Linked DNA regions of Homo sapiens. The protein of the gene in region 2 binds, or shares a complex with, the protein of the main gene of each other region. Each region holds a gene or a part of one and is shown on either strand. Other genes may lie near its edges. A codon is read from its position in the direction of its gene.

Region 1 (8,673 bases), on a different chromosome or scaffold from region 2:
AAAGGCAGAGGAAGCTCAGAGCCCAAGGTAAAGGGGGGCGCCTAAGAAAAGTGACTCCATTGGGACCACGGTGAGAGGGTCCCGATACACAGCTTGGGTTAAGCCACTGATTTCAAAGTATCTCAGGAATGGTGGACTCAGCACCCATCAGGCAATTCTCTCAAGCAGTCTCCTGGTAGATATTTAGTAGCAGCTGAAATCAAGATTATGTTCTGATAGACACTTGCTGATGGTTAAAGAGCTATATACACTTTGAGGACCAGCTGAACTGGGGCAGGACTAACTCCCTCTGGTGAAAATACAGGAACCCAAACACACAAGTCAGAGCAGGAGGTGTCTCCCCCACCCCCAAACAATAATGCTGACCTTGGATTTGGGTTAAGTGCCTAGCCCAGCGTGTGAGTGTTGAGTAAGTGGAAACCATCATCACCATCATCAGGTAATGGAAAACCATCAAAGCTTTGAGCTGGCTTGTTAGCCAAGAATAGTACCAGTGTATTAGCTACTACTAATACTCACAGCTGACAATTACTGAGCACTTGCTCCGTGCCAGGAATCACGGAAACACCTCGCATGCATTTCCTCAATACTCCCTCCCAGTAACGGCGAGGACACAAAACTGGTAGAGCCAGGACTGGAATCCAGGCAGGCCCCAAAGCACTCCAGTGGAGCCTGCCAAGGTGGGCAGGCTACCATACTAATGCGGTCCAGTATTTGACCACCACTCCTATTTGAGCAAGTTTAACAGAAAACCTAAAACTAAACCTAAAATCTAAAAATTAGAGCAAATGCATAAAAAGCAGGCTGTTAAAATGGATCATAAATCTTGCATCACTCATTGGAAAACCACTCAAAATAAATGTCTCTGAAACATGGCCTCTGAGGAGGGCACTCCGTGTGGCTTGTATCACCCTGGTGACAAACCACTTGAACCTGGATGGTCATCTGACCATATTTAACAGGTGATGCACAGAGCCATTTGCATCCACTGTGGTCAACATTTAGGAAGTTTTAAGCTGAGATTTGCCAAATTGTAGCCTACTGGATTCCGGGTTCTCTTGACATCTCTTTCTAGTAGCCACGTCTTGCACTTCCCGAGTAAAAACGAACTGAGATGCAAATAAAAAAAAAAAAAACGAGGATTTAAGAATAATGAAAAGAGAAAAACCAAGAAAGCACAATCACTAGTGTAGAGATAACAGCATTTCTGAATTCCCTGAAAACAATCTATAGAAATGCATGTGAAATAATACACCAGCATCTGTGGCCCACACGCCACATATTAGGAACTGATGTCGTAATATAAGGTAAAAATGTTACTCTGAAAACACAAATCCTCACAAATCATTAGGCAGTAAGGCTGAATCCAGCACCCCCCCACCCACAGCGCAGTGAGGCAGTGTCTAGCAGCCGTAGTGCTCCCCGCGCCCCAGTTCAGTCTCTGGCAACTTCAGATACTTCCCACTAATAACAAGAAGCCTTTCAACATTTTCACAACATCTCAAAACTGACCCCTTTTCTAGCTTAAATGGCACGGATCTGGAAAAGCAAACTATACACAGAATCAGAAAAGATGACTGCCCCTGAGGGATTACAGAAAAAGTGGCAGTCAGGTTTCAATGAAGTAAAATGTGTCCAATGATAGCGGAGGGGAGGGGGATCAACTGAGCTGAAACTGGCAAGAACGTAATTCCAGGGAGCTCACAACACGCAAGGACCCGGATTTCCCGCTGCCTGAACGCCCAGTATTCGCACACTGATAAGAACACCTCCCCATAATCCCCTGGCCAGCGCCTCCAACACCCCCAATCCTTTCCCCAGGAACCCAGTCCCAGTTTCTGCAGTTCCTGTAACAGCCACATTCCCATACAAGGGCTGCCTGAGCTCCCCAAGCCCTCCAACAATCACCCCCCAGTGCCCTCGAAGGTCTATTCAGAGAAGTCACCAAGATGCAGTCACCCAGGAAATTCAAGGACCTCCAACTTACCAAAAGGCTTTCGGCTGTACAGAGCTAAGCTTCCTATTCCCCTCCTAAACCTACAATCTAGTTTTCATTTCTCAAGAAGCCTTTCCCTGTGCTCACGCACGCAGTTGTTAGCTGGCTCGGTGAGGCACTCCAAGCAGTAACAGCGGTAGCCACAAAATAAACCAGAAGCATCTCCACTACGAAGCAGTAATAACAATTTGTCCTAATGATTCCTTTGTCCTTGGAAAAACAACTTCAGAAAGTTATCCACTGTGAACAGGGCAGGCTCGCGGCTTCTTGGTCCGGAGACCCAGTTCCCACTGGCCCACTCACCGTTGGAGAGAGCTTGCTGAAGCTCGGTGTCTGATATCACTCCACTCCTGTCTTTATCGACCCTATAACATCAAGAAGACCAAATAAGCTGGCGATCGAAAGTTCAGGAAAAGCAAAACAAACGTCTTCTGTCAACCCTGCACCGACTCTGGAAGGCTCCCTCCTGGAACCTCCGCCTCTCCCGTCCCGCTGAGGAGTACAGCGGAATCAAGGAAGTGCCCCAGGAGCCGACGTCCAGTGTGGTCTTCCCCTAAGAGGACAATCATCTTCACCTCAATCCTTCCCTTCCTTCCTCTCCTGGCCTGTCTGAATTCCCATTTGCACCCGTTTCCCTTTTTCACAGACAAGACAAGATTCCCTCAGATAACTAAGCCATTCCCTGGCCATCAGTCACTACAGTTTCGGACATTCGGTGGAAAAGCGACCAGGGACAGAAGGCGCCGCCATAAAGGTCACCTGGCCCGAGCAGACGCCAGGTCGCTGCTTCTTCCTTGGCTGCTGACATTTTAACAGCGCCCAGGCAGTCTGTTTCCGCTTTCCCCAAACAAGCACCCTGGAGACCCTCCACCTGGCGGCTCTTGAGGCGAGAAAAAGGGCCTAGCCCAGGAGCCGGTGGCCGCGACCTCGGGTCTGCAGTGGCGCACTCTGCATCTTGGGAAGGGCCCGACGCACAGGACAGGGACCGGGCAGGAGGCAGGGGCGGCCCCAGGAGACCGGGCAGCGGACGGGGGAGACCGCGGGGGACCCGCCAGGGGACGGGGGCGGCCGCGTCGGCTGGGGCAGGGGTCGGGGGCGGCGGCAGGGGACGGGAGGGGGCCGCGGGGGACCCGACAGGGGACGGAGGAGGCCGCAGTAGAACCGGCAGGGAACGGGGTTGGTCGGGGGAGTCGGGACAGGGGTCGGGGCCGCCGCGGCGGAGGCGGGAGGTGCCCGGGCGGTGCCAGGCCGCACCTCTGGAAAACGTTCCACAGGAAGCTCTGGTCCGGCAGCGCCGCGCCTGCAGCAGGCCCAGGGCCGGCCCCAGGGCCGGGGCGGTAAGAGTAGGCGGCCATGGGCCAAGGCACGCGGCTGGGCTGAGGCGCCTGCAGCGACGAGAGACCTCTCAGGCCGACTCCGCTTCCGCCTCTGCCGGGGGCAGGGCCTGGCATTATCACCACTTCCGGGGGCGCAGGAAATGCGTGGTCTCCGGGATGGTCACGGGGTCCCGCGCAGCCAATCCCCTCGCAGCTAAGTTGCCAGGCAACGCCCTGGCGCCTGCGGGGAGGGCGGGGTCTGGGCGCCTGGAGGAAGCCAGAGCTTTGGCGCAGGCCGCCTGCGCGCTGTGCCAGGAAAGCGCTTGGAGAAAATGTCCGGCCCCGCGACCTGGGACAGGAAGTGATGGAGCACGGACTTAGTTTGCCTTTCAGTTCTTGTATAAATAGTTTTGAGGTGAATGTGATTTGCTAACAGTCGGAAACTCTGGGCGGGGCGCGGTAGCTCACACCTGTGATCCCTGCCCTTTGGGAGGCGGAGGCGGGCGGAGCTCTTGAGCCCAGCAGTTCGGACCAGCCTGGGCAGCATGGATAGACCCCATCCCTACAAAAATTACAAAAAGTAGTCGGGCGTGGTGGGCTCCTGTGGTCCCATCTACTCCGTGGGCTGAGGCGGGAGGATTGCCTGAGCCCGGGAGGTCAAGGCCGCAGGGAGCCGAGCTCACTGCACTACAGGGGTGGACAGCGAGACTCTGCCAAAAAAAAAAAAAAAAAAAAGAAAGCAAAAGCAGGCCGGGCGCGGTGGCTCACGCCTGTAATCCCAGCACTTTGGGAGGCCAAGGCCAGTGGATTACCTGAAGTCGGGAGTTCGAGACCAGCCTTGGCCAATTGGGAGACACCCCGTATCTACTAAAAATACAAAACTAACCGGGCGTGATGGTGCACACCTGTAATCCCAGCTACTCGGGAGGCTGAGGCAGGAGAATTGCTTGAAACCGGGAGGAGGAGGTTGCAGTGATCCGAGATCGGGCCATTGCACTCCAGGCCTGGGCAACAAGTGCAAAACTCTGTCTCAAAAAAAAAAAAAAAAAAAAGTCAAAACACAATTCGGGTGGGAAAGGCAGTGTGCAGCATTCTCGGTTGTCTGTTCCGCCCCCAAAAGCTTCCCTCCTTTAGGTTTAACCTGCGCCCCCGTGCTCTGCATCAGCGCGGCCCCTGACCCCGTGCAGCTGGAAACACTGCTGGGCCCCTTCACACCCCTGCCTGCTGGGCCCCTTCACACCCCGGTGGTGGTGCAGCCCTGCCTCCCGCAAGACAGCACTGCCTTCGTGCTGGACACAGTTCTAAGGTGGAGCCTGGAGTGCCTGTAGCACAAATCCCGGAATTGGGAAGTGCCCAGCTTTGGGCCACTGTGATCCCTGGGTCTTTCCCACGCGCGTAGTCTCGTGCCGCCTTCCACCCCGGTCCTGTGTCCTGTGCCCCGGTTCAGAATACTACAATTATTCTCATTATTTCATGGGGTTATTTCAGCTTTTCAGTTTCTTCAGTGCCTCATTCCATGAATGCTAACTTTTTTCATCCTCATACTTCCTAGGGTTGTCTCTGAATTTTCACTCAGTTGTCTACCAAGATGTTGAATGGACCCAGAGCCAAGGACGTGGTCTTTTATCAGTGGCACCTGAGACTTTCTTCCCTGTGGACGCAAATCCATTATTCAGCACTCTGGGCACAGCTACAGATCTGATCAGCTATCCATTCTCCAAACTATCTCATCCTCTGTCCCATTTTTCTGTCTCTCTTGTCCACAAGGCATATACCTGAGAGTTTTCAAATTCCTCAGAGAAATTTAGATATTCTGTGGCTTTGGCATTCACCTAATGTGTTAATCTACAAACCTTTTTTACAGTGTGGATTTTTTTTCATGATGTGAATTCAAGTGGTTTCTAATGGTCTCTTCATAAAGTTGTAAACCAAAAGTAAAATTCTAAGGCCCCACCCCATCTGAATGGACCCCTTCTCTGGGCCAGGGCACTCCAAATTAACCTGAAAACCGTTCAGGCCACGACATGAAGTGGGGGCGGGTGGGACATGGCTGACTATGCCCTCCTCCCTTTTGGAATTCAGGGAAAGCCAACACAGACCTTAAGTCTAATGAGAAACACCATCTATTCTCTCTGAAGCCTGCTACCCCAAGGCTTCTTCTGCTGATAAAACTTTGGTCTCCACAACCTCTTATAACCCAGACATTCCTTTCTATTGGTAATAACTCTCAACTAATTGCCAATCAGAACATTTTTAAATCTACCTATAACCCAGAAGCCCCCACTTTGAGTTGTCCTGCCTTTCTGGACTGAACCAATGTATATCTTGAATAGATTTGATTGATGTCTCACGACCCTCTAAAATGCATAAAACCAAGTTGCACCCCAGCCACCTCCTGAGGTCTGTGTCATGGGCGTGGCCACTCTATTTGGCTCAGAATAAATCTCTTCAAGTATTTCACAGAGGTTCAGCCTTTTCATTGACAAAGTATTCATATCACTTGTTGAAGAATCCTTTCTAGAATCTTCCACAGCTCTTTGAGCTGTAGTTTCTGAAGTCCATCTTTATTCTCCCTCCCATCACTGGCTCCTGTTTTGTTCTCCAGAACTCTGAAAATACTAACAACTATGATTTTGTGACCCAATTTGGAAGTTCTTACAGGGAAACCTCAGCAAGAAACAGCTCAGTGCTAGACGCAGTGGCTCATGTCTATAATCCCAGTACTTTGGGAGGCTGAGGTGGGAGGATCACTTGAGGCCAGAACTTCAAGACTAGCTTGGGCTATTTTAAAATTTTTTAAAAGGGGGAGCATCTCAGTGACTGCAGCAGGCCTCAGCCTCCACTCCCAACAGTTAGTTGGGCTCTACCAACTGTTGGCCGAGTCTCCAACCTGGAGTACCACAGCCATCATCACCCATGGCACCCAGGAGTGCTCCGTCATGCTTTCCCTTTAGTTCTAGGGGTAGAAAATGCCTTCATTCAAGAGAGGACACACTTAATGAATGCAACCAGCTAGAATCCACCCTTTTAATATTTAAATATAATCCACCCTTATAATATTTAAATATGTGGCTTTGTTTAATCCTCCCCATGCCAAGGCACCATATCCACATTTTACTGAAGAGAAAACTAGAGTTCAGAGAAGGTAACTTGCCTAAAGCCAAGCAGGCAGTAAGAGGAGATTCAAGCCCAGATCCTTTTGTGCTTTTTCTGCATCATCTCAGGGGCAGCAAGGCTGACTCTTGAAAGGGAGGTTAATTACTATGAAATTAAGGTTTAAAGAAAAAACACCCTGGCCAGGCGCGGTGGCTCACAGCTGTAATTCCAGCACTTTGGGAGGCTGAGGCGGGTGGATCAAGACCATCCTGGCTAACATGGTGAAACCTCGTCTCTACTAAAAATACAAAAAATTAGCCAGACGTGGTGGCAGGTGCCTGTAATCCCAGCTACTTGGGAGGCTGAGGCAGGAGAATGGCGTGAACCCGGGAGGCGGAGCTTGCAGTGAGCCGAGATTGCACCAGGCACTCCAGCCTGGGCAACAGAGTGAGACTCCGTCTCAAAAAAAAAAAAAGAAAGAAAAAACACCCTGCGTGCATACTCATATGAATGTACAAATGGATGAGTCTAGAACAAGAGATACTAGCCTGTTACATACACAAACTATGCAGCTGCAGTCCCTGCTGCTTCTACAACCCTGACCTCTAAGAAACCTCTAGCTCTGAATCCTGTCAGTACCTGGGCTGTGCTGCTTGGGACAACATTGTCTTCACAAGTCCTCTCCACATTCTCAGAGGTGGGGGTATTGCCAATGATGGGGGTTGCTGCCTGAGTCCCGTCACCAGGGGACAAAGCTACAGCAGAGACCACCATCTGCCAACAAAAAGAGAGATCATCTCCCACCCCTGGTTCTGCTGACCCAATCACTGGAAGCATCAAGGCACCACTATCTCCTCATCTGCCTCAGATTCAATTTCCTCCTAGCCAGGTCTGTTCTAAGCTCTCCAGAAGTTGAGAAATTAACTGAAAGATAACACTTTCCTCCCTGCATTAAGGTTCATCACATAATGTATCCAAATACTGGGTCAGTCTTTCCTTTGGTCTCGTTTCTCTCAGCTAATTTGAAAATGCCTTTTCTGTTTTCATTAGAATTTTTCTAAATGTTTCTGGGCACTTGTGTTCCTGAGGCTTTCCATAGTGCACCCTCTTATGCATCTGATGTCTTTGGCACATATAGGCCCTCAACAAGTATTTGTTAAATGAACAGATAACCATCCTGTCCTTTGTGTGAACAAGCATATGCAAGTGTACATTGTATCTGTACATGTATCCAACAGCATCCATCTGAAGCCACTTTGTTCGCTTATTTTCTCAGGATGACTGATGGCTGCATCATGACATTTGCACACAGAATCTTTTCTTCTCCAGTCACTTTTCCTTTTTCCAGATTCCCGCCATAGAATTCCAGGGACAGAGCCAACCATGCCTGGCACCCCCTCCTGTCCTGGGACAATGATACTTTCTCCCGTGACTCCCATCTTCCTTCCAACATTCTTCTGCTAGAATTCAGTAAGGAAGACAATGACTTACCACTTTTAATTTTTTCCCCTTTTTTGCTTTTCTACCAAATACTGCTTTTAACACAGGCTTTTCACTGAGTAGTGGACAATCTATCAGCTAGGTGCTATTCAGTGTGAGGGGCATTTGCAAAGGTCTGCATCAGTGCTGGCTGATGGAACTTTCTAGTGATAGCATCATTCTGTAGCTGCACTGTCCAGTGCAGAGGCTACTTGCCACTGTGGCTACTGCTCAGGATGGTGCAGGTCTGAATATCTTAGACACAGCGGCCACCGTGTCTACTGCACGGGACTGAATATTTTAGACACAGCGGCCACCGTGTCTACTGCACGGGACGGCGAGGGTCTGAATATCTTACAGACAGCGGCCACCGTGTCTACTGCACGGGACGGCGAGGGTCTGAATATCTCAGACACAGCGGCCACGGTGTCTACTGCACGGGACGGTGCAGGTCTGACTGTCTTAGACACAGCTCACCTTTGATCCGTGTTAGGAATTATCCACATCTCCTCTCTGGGCAATATTCTACTTTCTTTTTATATTGACCCAATTATTTTACTTCTTTGGTGTGTCCTTTCTCCTCACACACATGGGTTCACTTTAAAACCTTGAAACCCACATTTATAAAACATTTTCAATATGAAACATCGTTCCATGACTCATATAGTACTCCATGGAGTACTATAAACATTTACATTTCCAGACCACCCACTGCCCAGTGGTTTTCCTGGTCTCAGTACTCATGAAAATGGTCTGAAGGTTTGTTTTGGGTTCCTAAGCAGTAGA
Region 2 (7,877 bases):
TTGATGTTAGCATTTTTATATAAAAAGAAATAGTTATATCATATATGTCTATAAGCAGATATAGTAAATCACGGGACTTTTTTTTTTTTGAGATGGAGTCTTGCTCTTTCGCCCAGCCTGGAATGCAGTGGCGTGATCTCTGCTCACTGCAAGCTCCACCTCCCTGGTTCCTTCCATTCTCCTGCCTCAGCCTCCCAAGTAGCTGGGACTACAGGCGTCCACCACCATGCCTGGCTAATTTTTTGTATTTTTAGTAGAGATGGGATTTCACCATGTTAGCCAGGATGGTCTTGATCTCCTGACCTCATGATCCACCCATCTCGGCCTCCCAAAGTGCTGGGATTACAGGCATGAGCCACCGTGCCCAGCCCCCATCACGGGACCATTTTTACAGAGATTTTTAAATATATACAGGCTTAAAAAATTATTTACACTACCCACTCTTATAAACATCCTCTCCTAGCCCTGTGCCAGAATCTCATTGCTATAGTAATTTAAGCATCTGCTCAATGGCATATGTGCAGCATTCATGAGCAAGAGAATGGAAAACATGCTTTTAACTTCTGTTTTGTATGGTTTCTCTGATCTTTTATTTTTGTGTGTATAGTTACCATAAATATATTTTCTATAGGAACATCTGCTCAGCAATTGGATGCAACATTTAGTACGAATGCTTCCCTTGAGATATTTGAATTAGACCTCTCTGATCCATCCTTGGATATGAAATCTTGTGCCACATTCTCCTCTTCTCACAGGTATGAGGTTCAGCTTTAAATTCATGTGATTATTTAATTATATATTGTTCTTGATTCCTAATTTGTCTATAATTATGCCATTATTAGAAACTACAAGGAATACCATCAAGAACATGAAATATTTTGTGAAAAAGCATGTGAGTGAATTTTTATGGAAGTAAAAGTAGTGTTTATGTGTTCTATTGACTTTTTTTTTTCTTTTTTTTTTTTGAGACAGAATCTTACTTCATAGCTCAGGCTGGAGTGCAGTGGCACGATCTCGGCTCACTGCAACCTCCACCTTCCAGGCTCAAGCAATTCTTGTGCCTCAGCCTCCCGAGTAGCTGGGATTACAGGTGCACACCACCTTGCCCAGCTAATTTTGTGTCTTTAGTAGCGACAGGGTTTTGCCATGTTGGCCAGGCTGGTTTTGAACTCTTGACCTCAAGCAATCCACCCACCTTAGCCTCCCAAAGTGCTGAGATTATAGGCATGAGGAATCACGCTTGGCCAGTATGTTCTGTTGGCTTTTTTATTGCTGTTACATGTAAGGTAGGAAGGAGAGGCTGTAGTTTCTAGCATTTTTTTCTGTTTTTTTGGTGTGTGTGTGGTTTTTTTTGTTTTTGTTTTTTTTTTGAGATGGAGTTTCACTCTTGTTGCCCAGGCTGGAGTGCAATGGCGCAATCTCGGCTCACCACAACCTCTGCCTCCTAGGTTCTAGCAATTCTCCTGCCTCAGCCTCCCGAGTAGCTGGGATTACAGGCATGTGCCACCATGCCTGGCTAATTTTGTATAGAGTTCTTTTTTCTATCTCCTTTATTGTGCCTGTTTACAAAAAGGTAGATGTGACTAGAAAAGGAGTAGTCATCGTAAGTATTAATAGTGATTATCTCTGAATGGTAGCTTATTTTTATTTTCTTCTGTTACGATATTTAGAAATATATCTCACAGTTTTGTTGACACGATTTCTAATACACTAGGTAACTAGGTATTTGGATCATACTTTCAAGTACTTATGCCCTATTGTAATGCAGAGAAAGGAGGTCTTCATTTCAGTAATAAAATAAGCTTTATTGCCTCAATATATTAGCAGGGTTTAAAGAGATTGCTCTTTAGCTGACAGAATATAGCTCAAATCATGCAGTTTCATGGGACCGCTCATATTCTTCAGAGCTGTCACAGTGGGATGGGAACCCCAGATACCTTTTGTCTAGTAGTTTTTCTGCTTACTACCATCTGTATCATCGTATACCTTTCTGCCTTCATATTTCATCTCCATTCTGGACCATATATTTTATTCTCTAATAGTAGGGGTACTTGTTATAATCTTGATGTCATTTTTCTACCATTAGAATACATTCTTTTTCTTAGAAAATTTCACATGACTCCTTTAACACCTTTACTATTTAACAGACCACTTGTTAGTGACCCCCCCTTTTTTTTTTTTTCAGACAAAGGTCAAAGCATGAGACCCTTCTATAGTCAAATAAAGAGTGTTTTTACCTTTCGAGGGAAGTGATTGATTAGCTCTATTTTACAATGAACCAGAGGCAATTTAAGAAGATTAAGTAACTTAGGGTCTCACAGTTTCTAAATGGTAAAATCATTCTTAAGCTCATATTTTTTGACACACAACTCAAGTATATTTTGTTACACTACCTTACAAGAGTTTTTACTCTTTAAGGATTACAAAATCACATATGCAAATATGAGTATAAATAAAAAATGAAATACTATTACACCAAAGTCATACATAGTTACCAGGAGTGGTGGGAAAGTAATATATTTGGATTGTTTATGAAAACATTAAAAATTAAGTGTATAATTTCAATTTTTTGTCTACATTTATTTGACTTTAAGAATGAATGATTTTATTCATTTTCTCCTGTAGGTACCACAAGTTGATTTGGGGGCCTTATAAAATGGATTCCAAAGGAGATGTCTCTGGAGTTCTGATTGCAGGTGGTGAAAATGGAAATATTATTCTCTATGATCCTTCTAAAATTATAGCTGGAGACAAGGAAGTTGTGATTGCCCAGAATGACAAGCATACTGGCCCAGTGAGAGCCTTGGATGTGAACATTTTCCAGGTTAAGACTTTAACATTTCATAATTCTTAGACTATGTGCTGCTCATTTGAAATCAGTATATGAATCTACTATGCCTCAGTTTTGGAATTGAAAGTTAAAAAACTGTGGCTATACAGGTTGACGAGTGTTTGTTTAAAGAATGGTGGGTTCAGAGTTGAGATCAGGGTTAAAAATACTACCTCCATGAAAAGGATCCGGCTGATAGGTTTTTGTTTTTGTTTTTGTTTTTGTTTTTTTGAGACGGAGTCTCGCTCTGTCACCAGGCTGGAGTGCAGTGGCATGATCTTGGCTCACTGCAACCTCTGCCTCCTGGGTTCAAGTGATTCTCCTGCCTCAGCCTCCCGAGTAGCTGGGATTACAGGCGCCTGCCACCACGCCCAGCTAATTTTTGTACTTTTAGTAGAGATGGGGTTTCACCATGTTGGCCAGAATGGTCTCGATCTCTTGACCTTGTGATCCGCCCGCCTCGGCCTCCCAAAGTGCTGGGATTACAGACGTGAGCCACTGTGCCCAGCTGGCTAATAGGTTTAAGTCTGAAGATGTCACGCCATTTGATTAGACATTTTATAAACATTAAGATCCCTATAGGTTGGAAACCTTGCCTTTTAAAAGTTCATGCTAGGTCAGCATTAGGCTGGTGCTGTGATGTCCAGGTTAATTCACTGTTTTATTAATTGAGAAATTTTATGTTTATGACAGAGATTAATACTCTATGAAATAATTAGAAATTAAATGTAATGGCTGGGCATGTGGCTCACACCTGTGTAATCCCAGCACTTTGAGAGGCCGAGGCAGACAGATCATGAGGTCAGGAGTTCGAGACCAGCCTGGCCAACGTGGTGAAACCCCGTCTCTACTAAAAATACAAAAATTAGCCGGGCATGGTGGCAGGCACCTGTAATCCCAGCTATTCGGGAGTCTGAGGCAGGAGAATCGCTTGAACCCGGGAGGCGGAGATCGCAGTGAGTTGAGATCGTGCCATTGCACTCCAGCCTGGGCAACGAGCAAAACTCAAAAAAAGAAAAAAGAAATGTAATGCAGATTTAACAAATAGTCAATTAAGATTCTTTGTACTGTTGCCTTCATAAACATTTCTGGTTGTTAATTATATAAATGCACAGCTTAATAACGATCTTAGCCTGAACAGGATGGTGAAACCCTGTCATTACAAAAAATGCAAACAATTAGCAGAACATGGTGGCACACGCCTGTAGTCTCAGCTACACGGGAGGCTGAGGTAGGTTGATGGCTTTAGCCTGGGAGGTCTACGCTGCAGTGAGCTATGATCACACCACTGCACTGCAACCTGGGTGACACATAGAGACCCTGTCTGGAAAAAAAAAAAAGACCTTGAGTTAATAGGATACTAGATTATAACAACCAAAAATGAGTATTAAGAAAATTTTAAATAGTTCCTTTTCTTATATTATAAATAGATACTTAGGGTATAGCAATACAGAAACCCAACTTGTTTATTTCTTTTTTGTTGTTGTTTTTTGTTTTTTGAAACAGCGTCTTGCTCCCTCTGCCAGGCTGGACTGCAGTGGCTCATGACTCACTGCAGTCTTGACCTCCTGGGCTCAAGCAAGTCTTCTGTCTCAGCCACCTGAGTAGCTGGGACTACAGGCATGAGCCACAACACCTGGCTAATTTTTGTAGAGACAGGGTTTTTTCGTGTTGGTCAAGCTGGTCCCAAACTCCTGGGCTCAAGTGGTCTGTCTGCCTCAGCCTCCCAAAGTGCTGTGACTACAGGCATGAGCCACTGTGCCCAGCCTTCGTTTCTATAGTTTGTGGTATCTGCTCTTTAGCTAACTCCTTTGTTAATTGTATTGAACAGCTGATGATTTTTAATAAAGTATTTTGTGTTATAGGTAGCTACTACCATAGAATGTCTCCCTTTTTTTAGTTATATGCCAACTGATAGAGAATAATTTGTAAGAGTAAATAGTAGTGGATGAAGGTCAGTATATGAAGCCCATTATCTTCCTGTACTTTATATTACAATTTCAGGTTCTTTTTGACCCTTAAGGTATGTACCAGAGAAAACCTAGAAATATTGCCACCTGGAATAAGATTGAGTGTATATGAACTAGAAATATGTGAAGAGTTATGACAAGAGATTTTACTAGTGCTGTATTGATTCAGCTCTGGAAGCTGGCTTTGAGGTATCCTGAGAAAGATGCCACAGTTTTAGGATTCAGCTTTTTCTGAAAGCAATAATTGATGACCTTTTTAATCTTATAATTAAATCTCCTTCCAGAGATGCAAAGATACAAACAGTAATCCTCACATGGTTGCATGACTGATTAAGAATTTATCCAGCCAGGTTTGGTGGCTCACGCCTGTAATCCCAGCACTTTGGGAGGCCGAGGCAGGTGGATCACCTGAGGTCAGGAGTTTGAGACCAGCCTGACCAACATGGAGAAACCCCGTCTCTACTAAAAATACAGAATTAGCCGGGAGTGGTGGTGCATGCCTGTAATCCTAGCTACTCGGGAGGCTGAGGCAGGAGAATCACTTGGACCCGGGAGGCGGAAGTTGTGGTGAGCTGAGATTGCACCATTGCACTCCAGCCTGGGCAACAAGAGCAAAACTCCATCTCAAAAAAAAAAAAAAAAAAAAGAATTTATCCATATAATTTTTAAAATAATATCTTGCATTAAAATTAATTTGTTCTCAGTAGACATCTTTTGTCTTTGTTAAGTAGAATTTTATGTTTTTCTAGAAAACTTTAAATTTTGAAAGAATTATGCATAATTTAGAAATTCATGCATATGTTTTTCACTTTTCAAATTAAATAGAAAAATTGTGTATGCTACATCTAATATCTTTCTAGCTCTGAACTGAGTTATTCTGAATTTTCTTAATTATTCATAAGTGCTATTTAGTTATGGTTTCTTCTTGCAGACTAATCTGGTAGCTTCTGGTGCTAATGAATCTGAAATCTACATATGGGATCTAAATAATTTTGCAACCCCAATGACACCAGGAGCCAAAACACAGGTATTTTTATATTGATTTTGATCATTGTAATCAAAAAAGCCAAAAGTAGTTCTCCTAAACCTACTTATTTCACTTTTAAGGCTTCTCACACAAAACATATATGTTTAAAATCATTGTTTAGATATTACTGATTTTTCTTCAGTAATTAATAAATATGTTTCTTCAAAGTATCAGTGAGTCCATCAAGAGTAAATATTTATTTAGTACCTACCACCTGGTAGACACTGGTCATTGTACTAGGCATACAGTAGTAAACAAAATGAACAAAAATCCTTAATAATTGTCTTAGATATAGTATAATTATTTTTGTTCTTTGTGTGATAGTTGCTCTGTGTTTTGGCAACAACCAACCTTCTTAAAACACACTTAGACAAGACCATGGAAGACAAGGTTTAAAATAAATACCTCAAGCCCTTTGCTTGTGTATTTCTATTAAGTTTGGTAACAACAGTCTTCTCCTGTTCTTCCCTGAGTTTCTTTATGTTGTATAGGCTATCCAACTTGAGTAGCCATTGTAACTGGCTCTAACATTTTGGCAATCTGAGAGGTAGCATAATGACAGCATATGCACTACCATTTATAAAGGTATTTTGCTAATGGTCTAGGCTGTAATTTTGCCCTGCCTAGTTTTCTGTCATAGTCACCAACATCTACTTTGTGGTCCATAATCTACCTTGCAGCAGTTGCAAAGTAAAGAAACAGTACTTGGTTTATAGCAGAAATTCAATAAAATTCTTGTTGAATGAGATATTATGAAACAAGATAATACACTTGAAGTGGTATGTACCTGCATTTTAAGTCATATAATTTTATGTGTTGAGAATGTAGAGATGTAGGACTATAAAGCAAATTTGTGGCATAAATGGATCAGATTTTTAAGTAATACACTTTTCAAAATGAAGGATCCAATTTTACAGTTAAATTTGATTATAATAGAGAAACAAGCAGTTTTTATTAACTGTTTCTTCCTTGTAGCCGCCAGAAGATATCAGCTGCATTGCATGGAACAGACAAGTTCAGCATATTTTAGCATCAGCCAGTCCCAGTGGCCGGGCCACTGTATGGGATCTTAGAAAAAATGAGCCAATCATCAAAGTCAGTGACCATAGTAACAGAGTAAGTATGTGATTGACTTGTGATGAACATGTTGTATTTCTGCTGTAGGTATTCCTATATTGTTTGTCAGAGTTGACAACAAATCAAATTTCTGTGAAGTCAAATCCTGTTTTTTTATTAATCAGTCATGTTAGAAGGAATGTTTTGTTTTTTTTCCTCTAAGGGAAAATCATAAAATTCCCAATAAATATGTTGGATATTATTAATGATGAAGAGAGATTGGTTAATCAAGGAACTTATTCCATGATATACTGGTGGTTTTGCTTTGCTAGCTGTTTTAAAACATTGCAGCAACTTTTTTTTTTTTTTTCTTGAGACGGAGTCTCGCTTTGTCGCCCAGGCTGGAGTACAGTGGCGTGATCTCGGCTCACTGCAACCTCTGCCTCCTGGGTTCAAGCACTTCTCCTGCCCCAGCCTTCCGAGTAGCTGAGATTACAGGCATGCACCATCAAGCCCGGCTAATTTTTGTATTTTTGGTAGAGATGGGGTTTCACCATGTTGGTCTGGCTGGTCTCAAACTCCTGACCTCGTGATCTGCCTGCCTCGGCCTCCCAAAGTGCTGGGATTACAGGCATGAGCTTCTGTGCCCGGCCATTGCAGCAACTTTTTAATTCATCTTTAACTTTTCTTAGAATGTAAAAATTTTTCCTGCTGGAAGCTTCATCACTGTGAACTTGTAATATTTGACTTCTTGGCCTCATCTCTTCCTCTGATTAGGTACTGCTAAAATGAGCTAATATATTTTCGGCACTTACCCATAGAGCACATTAAATTCTGAACCTTTTAGGTATCTTTATTTTTTTATGTCATTAGATGCCATAAAATAATTTAGATATAATTTGGAGCTTTTTTTGTTTGTTTGTTTATGAGTACATTGGATAGTTTGACATTTTCTAAAATAAGTTTGCCAAAAGTCAGGCATACATATGTAGTT

The links.
Region 1: the proteins of SEC31A (region 2) and PDCD6 are in contact, whole or in part, in a crystal structure (PDB 3WXA), measured with the Homo sapiens proteins. Residues at the interface, in NP_001070675.1 of Homo sapiens: Asn837, Pro838, Pro839, Pro840, Pro841, Gly842, Phe843, Ile844, Met845; in NP_037364.1 of Homo sapiens: Val31 (codon at 3,261), Val35 (codon at 2,360), Leu48 (codon at 2,321), Ala51 (codon at 2,312), Leu52 (codon at 2,309), Ser53 (codon at 2,306), Asn54 (codon at 2,303), Gly55, Thr56, Trp57, Phe85, Trp89, Ile92, Gln96, Phe99, Phe148.

Annotation. Positions count from the first base shown.
Region 1 is NC_000005.10:266,399-275,071, reverse strand, and holds the start of PDCD6 (programmed cell death protein 6), read right to left. Parts: upstream 3,427-8,673; 5' UTR 3,352-3,426; coding exon 3,251-3,351; intron 2,362-3,250; coding exon 2,300-2,361; intron 1-2,299. UniProt on the Homo sapiens protein: Calcium sensor that plays a key role in processes such as endoplasmic reticulum (ER)-Golgi vesicular transport, endosomal biogenesis or membrane repair.
Region 2 is NC_000004.12:82,873,677-82,881,553, reverse strand, and holds part of SEC31A (protein transport protein Sec31A), read left to right. Parts: intron 1-631; coding exon 632-755; intron 756-2,625; coding exon 2,626-2,824; intron 2,825-5,731; coding exon 5,732-5,827; intron 5,828-6,802; coding exon 6,803-6,943; intron 6,944-7,877. UniProt on the Homo sapiens protein: Component of the coat protein complex II (COPII) which promotes the formation of transport vesicles from the endoplasmic reticulum (ER).